Linked DNA regions of Homo sapiens: region 1 is linked to region 2. The links come from fine-mapping of genetic effects on gene expression. Tissue or cell type: whole blood. Region 2 holds a variant in brackets; the other region holds the start of a gene. All regions are shown on one strand. Distances are from middle to middle.

Evidence for each region. PIP is the estimated chance that this variant, and not a neighbour inherited with it, causes the effect.
Region 1: it holds the start of CYLD, and the variant in region 2 is fine-mapped to the expression of CYLD in whole blood (TOPMed, PIP above 0.99).

What each region holds. Positions count from the first base shown.
Region 1 is chr16:50,738,555-50,746,657 of GRCh38, forward strand. CYLD (CYLD lysine 63 deubiquitinase) reads left to right here and starts at 3,532. Exons shown (of 19, transcript NM_001378743.1): 1 at 3,532-3,570; 2 at 4,208-4,287. CYLD-AS1 (CYLD antisense RNA 1) reads right to left here and starts at 4,193. Exons shown (of 7, transcript NR_184279.1): 1 at 4,117-4,193; 2 at 2,774-2,850; 3 at 2,126-2,240. MIR3181 (microRNA 3181) reads left to right here and starts at 3,751; the gene lies at 3,751-3,823. RefSeq lists a silencer at 3,347-3,946 and an enhancer at 4,187-4,286.
Region 2 is chr16:50,804,956-50,813,058 of GRCh38, forward strand. LINC02168 (long intergenic non-protein coding RNA 2168) reads left to right here and starts at 1,717. Exons shown (of 2, transcript NR_146573.1): 1 at 1,717-1,852; 2 at 2,463-2,674. RefSeq lists enhancers at 4,187-5,186, 5,013-5,122. The variant A/G (reference allele first, on the strand shown) is at 4,543.

The DNA.
Region 1 (8,103 bases), 66 kb before region 2:
CTGACGGTGTGTTACTCTATGTCCCATGCCCCTAGCAGGCTACCTGGAGTTCACCGTCCTCCGTGGGGAAAGCTCCATTCAATTCAATAGCTTTATGTTAGGGTCCCGCTGTGTGCAATGAGAGAACTACATAAGACAGCTTAGAATCAGTGTTAGGTCAGGCACAGTGGCTCATGCCTGTAATCCCAGCACTTTGGGAGGCAAAAGCAGGAGGATCACTTGAAGCCAGGAGTTCAAGACCAGCCTGGGCAACATGGTGAGACCCTCATCTCTACTCAAAAGAGAAAAGTTAGCTGGGCATGGTGGTGCGTACCTGTAGTCTCAGCTGCTCAGGAGACTGAGGTGGGAGGATCACTTGAGCCCAGGAGACGGGGGCTGCAGTGAGCTATGATTGTGCCACTGTACTCCAGCCTAGGCAACAGAGTGAGACCCCATCTCAAACAAAAAACAAAAAACAAAAAAAGAACCAGTGTTATGTTCCCTGCAAAACCCTTCACAACTTCCCATTGCTCTTGGGATGGAGAACAACCCCTGTCCTTGGCTCCCAAGGCTCTTTTGTGCCTTCATTGTCTGCGCTCTGCCTCTTCCAGTTTCTTCAACAGGTCATGCACTTTCCTGTTTCCTATTTCTGGAGTGTTCCCCCTCACTCCTGCCTGCCAGTTATCTTTCCCATCTCATCTCAAAGGTGACTTCCTCAAACAGGCCTTCCCTGAGTGGCCAACCTCCCTTTAGGCATGCTCAGAGAGATTCTTCTTCTGAGGCTTACCACAGCCATAATTAAGTAAGTGATCATCTAATGAGTATTTTAGTTTGCCTTTTTTTTTTTTTTTTTTTTTGCCAGAGGGAGTGTGGCATCTCTCTTGTACACTGCTATGTTTCCTGGAACCTGCTCAGTAACACAACCGCTAGTTCCATGAACCCAGGACCAGGCTGGATGGAAGAGGCTGTGGGGTGGTGGATTGAGAGAGGTCATTAGTGAGGGCTGGAGCCCTCTGTGAAGACATGTCTGTAAAGGACTTTGACTAGGTCCTCCATGAAGGGAGGATTTGGAAGGCAGAGATGATGAGCATTTCAGTTGGGGAATCCATTTTAACAGAGGTGGAAAGAGTCTTGGCTTGGAATCAGGGTCTCGGCCCATCTCCTGAGTGACAGGGGCTTGTAATTTACTGTCTTTGGGCCTTCATCTACTACCTGTAAAATGAGAGGCTGGTTCACCAAGGACTGCAAATAATAGCACCATGACACTATCTCCCCATCTTATCCCCTGGCAGATATCTCTCTTCCCGGTGAGCCTGAATATAAGTTCAGAATTAGCTTTAACGCAATGTTCTAAGCAGCCATTCCCAATTGATAGGAAATGATAATTGAGATAAGCCCCATTTGTCAGGCTTGACTTGGATGAAGATCCCTTAGATGAAGTCAGGCCCCGGCACTGATTCAGTGAACGTATGACAGGACAGAGCCTGGGGACGAAAGCCCTATGGAAGTAGAGACCTCAGCAGCACCAAACACCATCAACAGAAAGGACACAAAAATAGGCCGGGCACATTGGCTCATGCCTGTAATCCCAGCACTTTGGGAGGCTGACGCAGGCAGATCACTTGAGGTCAGGAGTTTGAGACCAGCCTGGTCAATATGGTGAAACCTTGTCTCTACTAAAAATACAAAAATTAGCTGGGTGTGGTGGCAGGCACCTGTAATCCCAGCTACTTGGGAGGCTGAGGCAGGAGAATTGCTTGAACCTGGGAGGCGGAGGTTGCAGTGAGCTGAGATCGCACCATTGCACTCCAGCCTAGGCAACAGAGCAAGACTCTGTCTCAAAACAAAGAAACAAACAAACAAACACCCCAGCAACAACAACAACAAAAACAAAAAGAAGGGACATGAAAATATTCTAGTCCAGAGTGGCAAACTCAGATGCCTTAAGGGACCAGTGGATGTAGATCGTGCAGATAAGAGAAGTGGTCCCAGTGGTAACATGAGAATGTTTGCCTTGCCTAAAAGGACCCCAAATCTCTCTCCTTCACATTCTTTTCTCCTTCCTCCTTATCGTATGGGTTAGGCAAAAACAAATTTCAGCTGAAATTTTCTTCCAGACAGTTGGACTGTGACCTCTGAGTCCTACCAGCTTTGTTGGAGAATCCAGATGTAGATGAGAACGGTGTTGCCTAAGGCCACACTTCAAGCCAGGCCCGTTGATTTCCAACTTATGGCTTCCTACAGCAGTGTGGTCATGAAGCCTGGAAAACAGGAAGATAGGAGTGACAAAAGAGGGACAGGAGTAGAATGAGGCTTAGGTTTTCAAAAGATGCTCATTTCATTTTGGATGACTATGGCAAGGAAGAGTGGTGGCCTGTCTACTGCTACTGTTAGTCATCACTCATGTGACTGTTTTTATGTATTCATTGGTTTAAATTCCCTGGATCTCCAGAAACATGTCACTTTCCACTGGGGGAAATTTGTGTCATGATTAAAAACACACACACACACACACACACACACACACACACCCCTCCTCCTTTCTCAGTGTTAATCACCTTCTCCTATAATTAGCACTTAAAATGTCAAAGGAGAAGAAATTAATTAACAGGAGTATCCAGTGCAGCAAGGCTCTAGGACTGATTATAAAAAGCACTTCCTTAAATATTTTGAGTGCTTTTGGGAATCAGAAGCCTCCCTTCTAATTGAAAGATCCTTAACTACACCCTAAGTCCTGGCTGGTGGCCAGGGGTGCGGGGCTGAGTGAGGCGGCGTGTGGAAATCCCTTCTTCACCATCCTTGGGAAAATTCCCTCCAAACTGGGATAGGTGGCAACAGAGGTTCGGAAACAGCAAGCGTCCCAGGCTGAATCTGCGGAGGAGGAAGAGATGAACCTTTCCTGAGCTGGTACTGCGTGCCAGGAACTTTAGCTCGGTATTTTGCCACAATCCTGTAAGACAACCGATACTATGATCTCCATTTTACAGATGAGGACATTGAGGCTCAGCGTGGTTGTGACTTCCTCAGGTCACGCAGCCACTGAATGAAAGCGCCAAAGATTCAAACTGAGGTCTGATTCTAAAGCTTTGCTCTCTCACGGCATCCTGGAATCCTATTTCAACCTTCATCTGGACTCTTAACCCAGCCCAAACCTAAGCGTCTACAGTTTTGACAGCTGAGGCGGGAGCACGGGAGGCGGAGCTGGTGGCAGCGCAGCGCCCCGCCCCGGCTCCAGCATCAGCCAATGGTGACGCGGCACCCACAGCCTTTCGCCCAATCAGCTTGAGCTTCCCGCCTCCATCCGCCGCTCTTCTCTGCCCCGCCCCTTCGCTTTCCCTTTGGTTCCACCGAGCTTGACAGAGCGGAAAGTCCCTTCGGCCGGCGCCGGGCTGGCAGCCATTGGAGGAAGGTCTGTCACAGGGAGGCCCAATCACGGCCCGCTCAGGAGCGCAGCTCGGCCTACGATTGGCTAGCGCGGCGGCTGCCCCCTCCGCCCCCGCTCCCTCCCTCTTCCCTGTGCGGTTCGGAGGCGGGGCAGGTGGGGGCGGGCCCAGGTAGCAGGTTTGGCTGCGCGGGGGCCGCGCGTCGGAGGTAAATACTAGGGCGGTGGGTGTGGGGAGCCGGGGCCGGCCCGGGACGCGGGCTGGGGAGCCGGGGCGAGGGGCGACGCCCCGCCGCCCGAGGTTAGTGAATGAGCGGGCGGCTGGCGGCCGGCGGGCGGCCGGATCCCCTCGGCGCAGCCGCCTGGCCTCAGGGCGTCCGGAGCCGCCGCGGCGACCATCGGGCCCTCGGCGCCGGCCCGTTAGTTGCCCGGGCCCGAGCCGGCCGGGCCCGCGGGTTGCCGAGCCCGCTGACGTCAGCCCGGGTTTCCCCCCCCCACCGGGGCTTCCCCATCCCCCGAGGCTTCCCGGGAGGGCTGCGAGTCCGGGGAGCGTGCGGGGTCGCCACCATCGGGACCCCCAGAGGAGAGAGGACTTGGGGCGGGAGCCGCGCGGGACGCTGTCCCCCTCCCGCCCCCCACCCCATTTACAGATTGGGAGACTGAGGCACAGGCCGCTGGCGGGCCCCGACGGCCACGGTTGGCCTCAGGAGCCCGGGGCTGTGATTCCTACCGACCGCGCCGCGGGGCGTACGTACCGATCGATTTTGCGGGTGTTGGTGGCTCCCGTCCAGGAATGGCAGTCGGGGTTCTGGCCTTGTTAATGGCGTGTTCTGCTTTTTCTTTCAGTTTCCCCCTTTCTAGGGTGAGGATGGTTCTACACAGCCACCCGGAGTTCCTTAGTTGAAAGGTGCGCCCTGCTGTGACAGGTATTCTTTCTTTATGTTTTTCTTTCATGTTAACAATCGAGGGGGGTGGGGGGCGAATGGGGGGCGGGGGCGAAGTCATGAAATCTTCAGGAGATGGTGTTGAGTTTGGTACTCAGCTGGGTCAGCTGCCGGTTATTCATGTACTTGGCATCGTTTCTCTTCCACCCCTTGGCATTTGAATGTTTTAGGATAGTTGTCATCTTCCAGCCACCAAGCCTGTGGCCTTGCAGTCTCCCAGCCCCCATCATCCCTGCCACCTTCTTCTCCTCAATTTTTCCTGGAAAGTTTTATCCTTAGCTCAGCTAAGGAGCATGCCTACCTTGCTTTTGAATTCGGGCTAATTAGGGATCTTAATAAGATTGTTCATTTTGCAATCATTGGCTCTCAGAGAAGCACCCAGGCCTTGAGAGGGTGTTCGTTTGATTGTTGGCTTTCTACACACCCCCTCACGCCCCAAGTAGACTGAATGGCCTTAAGAATTTAGCCTCCCATTCCCCACTGAGCAGTAGGTGGATTTGAACTAGAACAGTATTAGGAGAAAATGATTTGCTGGAAATTCTTATTGAAGTAACACCCAGAACATTCTCTAATATTCTGCTGCAAAATTGTATAGTATTCTTGCAAATAAACCTTCCTCTGGGTGGTAACTTTTGTGAGAAGCAGATAAGGCTTGTTATATAAAGCACAACTAACATTAAGCAGCAATGATTTTTATAGTCTGGCACACCTAAACTGTGGTTTTGTTTGATTTAAGGAAGTCTCCAACACAGGGAGAGAGAAAGGAATAGTTATGTTGTTTATCAAACTATTAGTATTTTGTTCCTGATTTTCACACTATGATTTAAATTAGTTTTTTTTTCATTGGTTGTACAGAATTTATAAGCATCATACATGCTAGTTGAGGCTGTAGGAAGCTAGTATCAAATAAACCTCAAAACAACTTGGTTTCGTAATTGTGAAATTTTCCGTATTTGTTTCTTCTTATATGTATAACAATGAAGTGGTTTAGCATGATTTCATTTTATCTAGAGAATTACTGAAGTTTTAGGCAAAATTCATTAAATACTCCCAATTCCTGAGTCTTTTTCTCTTCTCTTTCTCTTGGTTTAATCCCTTAAACAGGAGGAGGAAATGCAATTTTGTTTTCACTGTTACCACTTGAGTCTTTCATTCATTTCTCTGTATTCAGTGCCTAGCATATGCCAGGCTCTCGTGTGGGCACTGGATAATATAAAAATGAAGGACTTGGGGAATTCACAGTTTGGCAGTGGAGTGGCTAGGTTTAACACTAGAGAGGCAGCAGTATTCCTTGTTCCAGTGGGAATATGCAGATGTGAGAGGCTCTTCTTTTCTTTTTTTTTTTTAACCTTATAAATCCCACTTGTATTAGGGACTGTGTACTTGTGACACAAATTAGTCATTGAGGAAAATTAAAACGGACTCAGTCTTTTTTCTGGCCACGGAATCTCTGTATCTCTATTCTTTAGCTGTTTAGAAATATAACAACTTTGTCTTTTAGTGAGAGATGTTCTCTTTTAAAAGGATGATCATTCTAGCTATCCAGAAGCTTTTGGAAAAAGGCCCACATGTCTTCTTTCTTTGGTGTTCAAGCTGACCTTCCTACCTCTTTGCCATTTATAATTAGGGGCAGAATTAAGTATTGTAAGTTTTATTCTAATTTAAATAGCTTCCTGTGGTTTTTAGAACAAGCAGGATATCTTTGGAGATGCAAAAAGCTCTTGAATTGGATCTGTCTTTGTGAGATCCTTATGAACAATATAACCTGATAACTTGAGAATCAGAAAAACACTGCATCTTCTGGATAAGTTAACCATTGTTAGTTTTCTGTAGCTACTGATGTTCATTTGTACTATATGTTGCCTTTCAGAATGTGGTAATTGTAATCTTTAACATTTTCATGTAAAACATATTTCCTGATCATCTTTCCATTGTCTTCATGGAAAATTGATAAATATTTGTGCCTTCCAACTCTCGTCTTGGTTGAATGACTTCATCTTAATACAAGTAAGTTCCCCTTTACTCAGAATCCAGACCATCAACAAGCTCAGATAACCAGAAATGTTTTCAAATCTATGTGAACCTGAACTGTTCTCCTTCATCAGCGTCCTTAAAGGAAAGGCCTTCTGTTCAACATGGCTTTAGGGTTAAACATATTATTGTGTTTCAACTCGTTGGTAATTTTCATTCAGTATTTATTACCAAGATATTCATAATCACACAGTTATCCAGCCTGAAGTAAGATAGTATTTAGATGAGTCATTTGTGATATACTCACTCAAAGTGATTCAACCTGCAAAATAATAAGAGAATACAAGTGAAAATTTCTCCCTTCACACTGACCCCTCACCCCCACCTGCCCTACGGTGACTTTGAATTTAGCTGTGCTTCTTTTTCCTTCAGTTGTCTTACTGTTCCCTAGGCCTTTACTTAAAGGCAGAAGCTGAGTGAATGTGGATTGATGTTGGGTTTTTTTTTGTGTGTGTTCTCTCTTTCCTCTTTGTTTTTTTTTTTTTTTTTTTTTTTGAGACCAGGTCTTGCTCTGTCACCCAGGCTGGAGTACAGTGGTGTGATCATAGCTCTCTTCAGCCTGGACCTCCTGGGCTCTAGCGATCTTCCCATCCTCCAGAGTAGCTGGGACCCTGAGTAGCTGGGCCCACAGGCAGACACCACCACACCCGGCTAATTTTCTTTTCTTTTTTTTTCTTCCTTTTGGGACAGGCTCTCATTCTGTCACCCAGGCAGGAGTGCGGTAGTGCTATCACAGCTCACTAAAGCCTTGAACTCCAGGGCTTAGGGGATCCTCCCACTTCAGCCTCCAAAGTGCTGGGATTACAGGAGTGAGCCACTGTGCCTAGCCTAGATGATGTAGTTTTCAGTATCTAACTCTGTACTGAAAGCGTAAAAAATACCAAACTAACAAACCAACCTTCTTGATGATAAATAACTCATTTACAATGTGATTTAGATCTTTCCCTTCATATTGTGTTGAGTCAGTTTTTACTGCTTGGGGTACCTAAGACTTTAACTATTTAACTACTATGCACATCCCAGTGAAAGTAGACTGTTGGTGTTATATTCACTTCTACAGTGGGGAGAAATGTATGTTAGCATATTTTTATTGCAATACTGGTATTTTGAGTACATAAAATAAATATATATATATAATGGAGTGTGTATATATGTGAGAGAGTGTGTGACAGGGTCTTGCTTTTTCACCCAGGCTGAAGTGCGGTGGCGTGATCATGGCTTGCTGCAGTCCCTCCCTCCAGGGCTCAAGCCATCCTCCCACCTCAGCCTCACAAGTAGCTGGGACTACAGGCACATGCCATCACACCTGGCTAACTTTTGTACTTTTTGTAGAAATGAGGTTTCACTGTGTTGCACAGGCTGGTCTCAAACTCCTGGGCTCAAGCTGTCCACTCACCTTGGCTTCCCAAAGTGTTGGGATTACAGGCGTGAGTCACTGTGCCTGGCCGAGAATATTAGTGATCATTCAGTTGATTGCCTTGTATATCTCTAGACTCGAGCCGTAAAGTTTCCCATTCAACTTTCTCTATCAGTTGCAGTGAAGAGAATCAATTTTTAATAAGAGAGTTTCAAACTTGTTCTTAATATATTCTTTCTGAAAGAGGAAAGGCTGTATCCTTTATTTTTGGATAATGCTTTTGAAATATTTGATAACTTGTGCTTGACTATTTTAGTTGTCTAACATGACCCATCCTATTGCTAAGTCTAAGCTCATTTCCACTTGTGCTAATGAAAGTTAGGAAAAAAGTTACCACTCCTTGTAGAGTT
Region 2 (8,103 bases):
TACGATAGACATAAAACCACGGTGGCAAACAGCAGCCCGTGAACCAAACCAGCTCAGCACCTGATTTTGTGAATCACATTTGATTGGAACACAGTCATGACCATTTATCTAAGTACAGGTTGAATATCCCTTATCTGAAATGTTTGAGACCAGAAGTGTTTCAGGTTTCAGATGTTTTTGGATTTGGGAATATTTGCAGTACCAGATGAGCAGCCCTAACCCAGAAATCCAAAATCCAAAATGCCCCAATGAGCATTTCCTTTGAGTGTCATGTTGGTGCTCAAGAAGTTTTGGATTTTGGAGCATTTCAGATATTTGGATTAGGGAGCATTTAAGATTTTTCAGATTAGAGATGCTCAGTCTATATTATCAATGCTTTTGTGCTACAATGGCTGAGTCAAATAGTTTTGACTGAACCCTTATGGCTCACGCAGTCATTAAATGGCCCTTCCCAGAAACAGTTTGCTTACCTTTGGCACAGAAAATGGTAAAATATAAAATAATTAGGAAGTAATGAGTTGCGAGTATTTGTTACCTTTATTTTAAGTATAATTTCATTTTAAGTTTATATAATTTGTAAGTTTATATACTTTGTTAGCTTAATAATTCAATAATAGATCCATCCAAGAACTGACTCGCAAAATTCCTGAAAATTTAATAATGGGCTCTTGTGAGCCATGGATGCCAGCTCCAGTTTACTTCTGCCATCATCTCAAACACACCTACAGGCACATATAGACTCCTGTGCGCTTCATTTTCTCCACAGCACTGATCCCCTGGCTGCATGGCTTATCGTGGGCTCCTCAGGACCTCCCCTAGTCCCTTTAATTGTCTTTCCTTACCACCTTGATCAGTGCCTGGCACAAACCTCCCGCCTCAGCCTCCTCAGTAGTTGGGACTGCAGGTGCACACCACCATGCCCAGCTGGCTTTTTACATTTTTGTAGAGAGGGGGCTCTCGCTATGTTGTCCAGGCTGTTTCAGCCTTTTATTCGTGGAAGCCCCACTGTCTATTGTCAGTGTGCTCAGAATTAGATTACTGTCCCCATTTCTTTTGAGAAAGCACAAGACGTCTCAGTCTCTAGTTCCCCAAATAATGCTTCCTCTCAGAAGTGGAGACATCGTAGGACTCCCCTGCTAGGGCTTTGATGAACTTTGAATGAAACCATGCACGGAAAGTGCTTATCACAGTGCCTGGCACTCCGTAGCCCCTGAGTAAACAGCAGCCACCAGTGGCAGCAGCAGCAGCATTAGTACTAATATCGTAAACATGAACTTGAGAGACAGGGTGCAAGTCTAATCAGCAGTTCTCTTTCTGCCTCTCATCTCCCTCCACGATCCTATTTTAAGCCACACTCTTTATCCTTTAGATGGTTTTATGAGATTGAGATTTTTCTCAGGCATCTTGTCCCTGAGTGCAGCAGCGCCATCTTGTGGTCATTACTGGTTATGGCGCTGTCCTAGATCTAAGCTCCCAAACTCCGAGCCGCAGCCAGAACCCAGGCTTGGGAGGCAGCAGGGATTTTGAAAGCCAATGTGGCAGTCGGGCCAACACACCAGATTACACACTACACCCTAAGAGGGTTTAAGTTTCCTCTGCGTCATTTCGGGACAGCTGCTTAGTGTTGACCATTTCTGTTTGTGGCTGTCCTCTCTCATAATGGGCTCTGTCTTGCCCTTTCTCTGCATCTGCTGCTCCCTCTGTCTTGAGCTTTCAGGCACCGTCTACAAACGGGGTTTAAAATGAGCTAGCGCCATCTACTGGGCGAATGCCGTAAGGTCGGTTGTGAGGTCCCGGAATCTGCAAAGGAATGAATGAATTACAAATCTGTGGCTTTATGGGGGGAATGTCGGTACGTAATAGGATTCTGATGTCACCTCCCTTTATTTGCGACCCTTTCTCAGTGTAAGCCTCATATCTACTGTGTTAACTTTAGTACAGGTTACTTTGTCAGGATCCCAATGTGAAAATCAACCACACTGTCTTCAGTGCTTCCCAGAGAGGGGTCTTTGGACCAACCTGCGTCGTAGTCATCCAGGGACATTTAAGAATGCAGGCTCCGGCTGGGCGTGGTGGCTCTCACCTGTAATTCCAGCGCTTTGAGAGGCTGAGGCGGGCAGGGCTTGAGGCCAGGACTTTAAGACCAGCCTGGGCAACACAGCAAGACCTTGTCTCTACAAAAATACAATAATAACAATAAAAATTAGACAGGTGTAATGATGCACTTCTGTAGTCCTAGCTACTTGGGAGGCTGAGGCTTGAGGATCACTTGAGCCCAGGAGTTGGAGGCTGTAGTGAGCTATGATCACACCACTGCACTTCACCCTGGGCGACAGAGCAAGACTCTGTCTCTAAAAAAGAGAATTTGGTCTTGGAGGCCCTGTGCAAAATCTACAGCATCAAGCTCTCAGGGTAGGGCCCTGGAATGTGCATTTTGAACACTTCCCCCTTTTCCCACCAAGAGAATCGGGCACACGCTGAAGTGTGAGAACCACTGCCATTATGGAGAAGAGGCTTCCCGCCCCCTCACCTGCCACTCTAGAAATCCAGAGAAGAGATTCCACTTGGATTAAGACTTGCATAAGTGGGGAGTTGAGTCCAGTCTCTTTCCCCCACTGCAATACCCTGTTGCGGTGACATGTAATAATAATAAAAAGACTTGCATGAACTCCTTTCTGTGCAAATGAGAGCAAGCATCTCTGACAAAACCACAGTGCCCCTGTCGCTCATTTTGTGTGTGGTTTCAGTGATAACAGACCCAAAGTCCTGGGACCAGCATCTGGCACACCATGGGGGCTCAAATGGGTCACTACTGCTGCTGTTACCTGTGTGAGGCCGGCTGGAGGCCTCCTCAGCATTCCTCACCCCCTCCCATCCACCTCTGCTTGGGAGGTGGGGGAAAATGGTTTATACTTTCATATCAAGGCTCGGCCTGCCACCTCGGGCCCTTCTCCCAGAGCAGGGCTCACTTCAAGCAAAGCACACAGCCATGTTGGAAAGATTCCAGTACTGAGGTCACCCCCTTCCTGGGTGGCACCTCTCTGAGCCTCAGTTTTCCCATTCCTAATACAGAGAATTGTATTAGAGTCTGTGCTGTCCCTTCCAGCTCTGACGTTCAGGGTGGCTCAGTGCTTTGGAAGCCCCTTCCCCATGTGGCACTTCCATGGTGTCTGGGTCTGGTGTGTGCAGAGACCCCCCCCCTCAGAATGCTGATTTCTCTTGCTTTGGTTCTTTCTCTGCCTGCTACCCCTAACCCATTTTGCACAAATTGTGAGCCATGTAGGTGCCCGATACACGAGTGCTTGGTTTTCAAAAGCCTTCATATTGTGCATACCTCATCCCCAGCAATTCTGTTGCTGGGAAATTTTTCTAAGGCAATCATGATCGCAGATGTGCCCAAGATTAGCCATCAGACTCCGAGCAGCACTGTTTATAATGCTGGCCAAACCTGAAAAAGTTAAATGTGCAGGACTGTAATAAATTATGGTACAGCTAGACTATACCATAACCATTAACCATGTGCAGTCATTAATGATTCTTCTGGAATGTAATTTTTTTAAGGACATGAGCAAAAATTCACACTATATTAGGTGAAAAAAGTGGATTATTAAAAACTTATGTATGATAATAGATCTAATTTTGTGTATACAAAAATTTGTGGCTGGGCATGATGGTTCATGCCTGTAATCCCAGCACTTTGGGAGGCTGAGGTGGGCGGATCACCTGGGGTCAGGAGTTTGAGACCAGCCTGACCAATATGGTGAAACCCCATCTCTACTAAAAATAAAAAAATTAGCCGGGCTGTGGTGGCATGCCGGTAATCCCAGCTACTCAGGAGGCTGAGGCAGGAGAATTGCTTGAATGCAGAAGGCAGATGTTGCAGTGAGCCGAGATCGCGCCACTGGACTCCAGCCTGGGTGGTGACAGAGGGAGACCCTGTCTCAAAAAAAAAAAAAAAAAAAAAAATATTGTGCATGTACTGAAAAATTTGCTTGCAGGGAATACATTGATTCCTGAGATGACAGTGACTGCGGATGACTTTCATGTTTGTGTTTTTCTCTTGTCGGTATTATCTAAATTAAAATCCGTGGTTGACTGAATGGCAGGATGTGCAGGGAGGGTTGTCAGGAAGGGGCCATTTATCAGAAGGAGAGAACAGACACCAGAAAGGGCATGGGCTGTCAATCAAATACCGTTGAGGTGTTTGGGAGTGTGGAGTGGTCACCTCTGAGGCCATTTGCATGATAAAGACCCATGTGAACTTCCACCAGTTTTGAAAAGAGACCTGGCCATCCTGGGAAGAAAAAGACTGTCTGGAAGGGCAGTGGCTGGGCCCCTGGAGATCAGAGGCTTTTATGACTCCCTGGAGGGAATGCATTGCAGCTGGCATGGAGGGTGAGGCTGCCAAGAGCTCACCACATCAAAGGGGTGGGCATGGCAGTGGGGGGCTCTGGGGTGCACCAATGGTTTCGATCAAAACAGGAGCCATGCCCAGACCAGGAGGAGCGTTCTGTGTGGTGAGGGTCCTGTAGAGGATAGCAT[A/G]CGGAATAAACGTCAGGATCACACTGGGGAGACTGACGCAGCTGAGCCAGGAGGCAAGGAAGAAAGAGGAAGACTGTATTCTGTCCAGTTGGTATAAAAATCAAACTCAGCCAGCATCGCCCTCTGCTTTATGTTCAACTCTCCAGGTAGCCACCTAGAAAACCTTTTCACACCCATTGTCCCCACCCTCTGAGTAGACAGAATGGAGAGTTTTATTTCACAGCTGGAGAAACTAGGGCTAAAGGAGCTCAATGATCTCACTGGTGTTACTTCCTAACCAGACCTGTGCTGTGGGACTGTCCCGCAGGACGAAAGCAGCAGCTAGGCGTGACCATGGGGAGCCCCCTTGCCCCATAGGTAAATGCCGTCACCCTTTCCCAGCCTCAGATGATAGGGGTTCTGGGACAGAGAGACCCTGAACATAGAGTGCTGTGGGGAGTGGCGCATGCCTGGAACATGCTGTGTGGACAGAGGAGGTGGGAGAGATGAGGTGGTTTGGGCTAAGTAGAAGAGCAACTGTGGGAGGGACTGCATTCTGGAAACCCCAGAGCAGGGGATGAGGAAGAAATTGATCAAGCAATCCTCCCAGCTCGACCTCCCAAAGTCCTAGGATTACAAGCTTGAGCCACTGTGCCTGGCCTACCTGGATTGTGGTGTGTGTATCTGCTCTCTGGGCCTCAGTTTCCCCATTTGGTGAACATTGGGCCCTGGGTTAGGTGCTTCCTATATATGCTCCCTTATTCTTGTGAGAACTTCATCCCTAATTATCTGATGAGAAAGCTGAGGGTCAGGCAGAGCCAGTGGGACTTGAAGTCAGGGCCACCTGCCTCTAGTAGCCTGGCATTGACTCTAAAAATGACGAGTGGGAGGAGGGCAGGTTGGTCCAAGATGATTCCCTCAGCTCCTGCCTGCTTCTGCGGTCTCTCTGGAGATGCCTGCAAGGCTCTGCTGGGCCCCAGCACTGTCCCCTCAGCTAGGGAGCAGTTGGCAGGGTTCCCACTGTTCAGTCAGGTAAGGGCCTGCTGCTCTTCAGTGTGGCCTGTGTTTGGTGCCCATCCTATAGCCCAGAGTGCCAAGAGAGCATGCCATCTACCCTGCCTGGGAGGGCGGCCTTGTGCTTAGCTTGAGTTTTATTTCCTCCAGCCCCTGGTAGCCCCTTCGCCCCTGCCAGCCTATCTGCTGTGGGTGTGGGCTCCAGCTCTGTCATATTCTGTCCGTGTCCAGGGCTATGCACAGAGCCACAGTGCTGGCGAGGAGGGGCGCTGCCAGGGGTGGCCCAGAATCTAGACCCTGAATGGCACTGGGGAAGCATGGGCTGCTCCCTTTTCCTTTCTCTCTTTGTTACTGAGATGCACCTTGTTATCGTAAAGGGCACTGGGCCCCTGTATAGGGCTCAAGGAAATTTACATTTCCACACACTCTTGCAGCCATACATTAGGTCAACCTGGGGACCTTTCCCAGCACCTCCAAGGCTCCTTCTGCTCCCCCAAGTCAAGTTACCTCCCTGCACCAGTGATTACCACTATTTTGACTTCTGTCACTGTAGATCCCTGTTGCCAGGTTTTGAACTTATGTAAAGGGAGTCATAGATCGTGCACACTTCAGGTAGTGTCTGATGTCATGCTGTGTGCATCCTTCAGACTGTCTCTGTTGTGTATGTCAGTGATTCTACTTCATAGCTATGTGATGCTCTCTTACGTAAATATACAATCGTTTATTTATGGTTCTCATACTGATGGAAAGGGGCATTGCTGACAGTTTGGGGCTACTACACATGACCCTACTGTGATCCTTCTTGAATTGGTGGATTTTAGCTTTAGGAGAGACAGCTGCAGACTTTTCCAAAGTTTACACTCCTTCCTTCTTTCATTATTATTTTTTAACCAACTCCACTGAGGTGTAATTTACATACAGTAACATACACATATTTTAAGTAAGCAGTTAGATGAGTTTTGACACATTCATGAATTTATTTTTTATGAGACCAGGATCTCACTATGTTGCCCAAGCTAGTCTCGAACTCCTGGGCTCAAGCGATCCTCCTGCCTCAGCCTCCCAAGTATCTGGGACTACAGGCATGCACCACCATGCCCAGCCAATTTTAAAAATTTTTCGTAGAGAAGGTGATCTTGTTATGTTGCCCAGGCTGGTCTTGAATTCCTGACCTCAAGTGATCCTCCTGCCTGGGCATCCGGAAGCTCTATTACAGGCATGAGCCACCACTCTGGGATCTGACAAACTTTCTGTAGTGTTGAAGTTCAGTGACTTGGAGTAGTCACCTCCAGCTCAAGGTGCATGTGCCTGTGTGTTTTCTCCTTTTTTTGATAAAACCCAGGCTCAGCACAGGGTCGAGAAAAAGACTGAAAGTCAGCCCAGAAAGCAGTGTAGAAAGTAGAAAGCTAGTCTGGACTACCATTAGCATCAAGGACCTCAGTCACTGGAGCCATTGAGATGGGTCCACCCCTTCTCCCTCTCTTTCTCTCTCTCTCTTTTTCTTTCTTTAATTCATTAGCAAGAGGGTCTGTCTCACTATGTTGCCCAGGCTGGAAAACCTGGGCTCAAGCAACCCTCCCATCTCAGCCTCCCAGTCCCAGCTCAATCTTTCTTTTTAAAGTTGGAGAATTTTCTAAAGTTCTCCAACTTTAAAGGCTGCTGCCTAGGGAGGCAGGGCTGCACCCACGGGCAGAGTTAGAGGCAGAGCTGGAACAGAACCCCAGCATGGGAAGTCCGTGTTCACGGGGGGCCATTTCACCCTGGGACATTGTAGGGCAGCTCGAGGCTCTGACTAGGGAGGCCCAGCGCCTGGGGCTGGCGCTTGGTCCGAGCTCTGCAGGCTTTCCTGGGTGGAGAGGAGCCTCTTCCTGCCATGCACACCAGGCCTTCCTTAAGTGACTCAAACACCAATCTTCCTTGGGCTTCCTGAACTGTGAGGATTCCACAGTCTGGCAGGGCTGGTGGCCTCAGCCGTACACTCTGCAGCCAAGAGGGCTCTAGCTCCTGATTCCACCCTGTCCCTCAGCGGCTCCCCAGTGCTCTTCCAGGCCTTAGGCCTGCACCATCCCCACCTCTCCCTCCTCACCAACCTGCCACCTCCTGCCTCAGGTGGACACACTCAGGAGGAAGTCAAGCCTGTCCCTATACAAAAGCCATATTCCCAGGCACTTGCCTGAGTAGAGACGAAGTCTCAGCTCCTTCTACGTGAGCCCGAGGTGCCCACGGTCCCCACACCCCCTCCAGGAGTCCTTGCATTTGCGCAATGCTTTATACTCATCTGTCAGCTCGGCAGTGGGTCCCCCAGAGGGTGAAAACCACATTGTCCCTGTCTCATCAGCAACCAGAACAGGGGGCACCAACTGTGGCCTCCTCCCATATTTGTCGGGAGACTGAATGATTCTCAGGAAGCTGCGCGGCCACCGGCCATTTCACATGGGCATTTCCAAGCTGGGTGCTTTTTGCACCATGCTATTTTGGGCGGGAAGACTTTTCCAGTCCCTTTCTCCTTGGCATGCCACAGAAGAATTTCCTTCACCCACATCTGGATCATCTAGAATTACCCAGTTC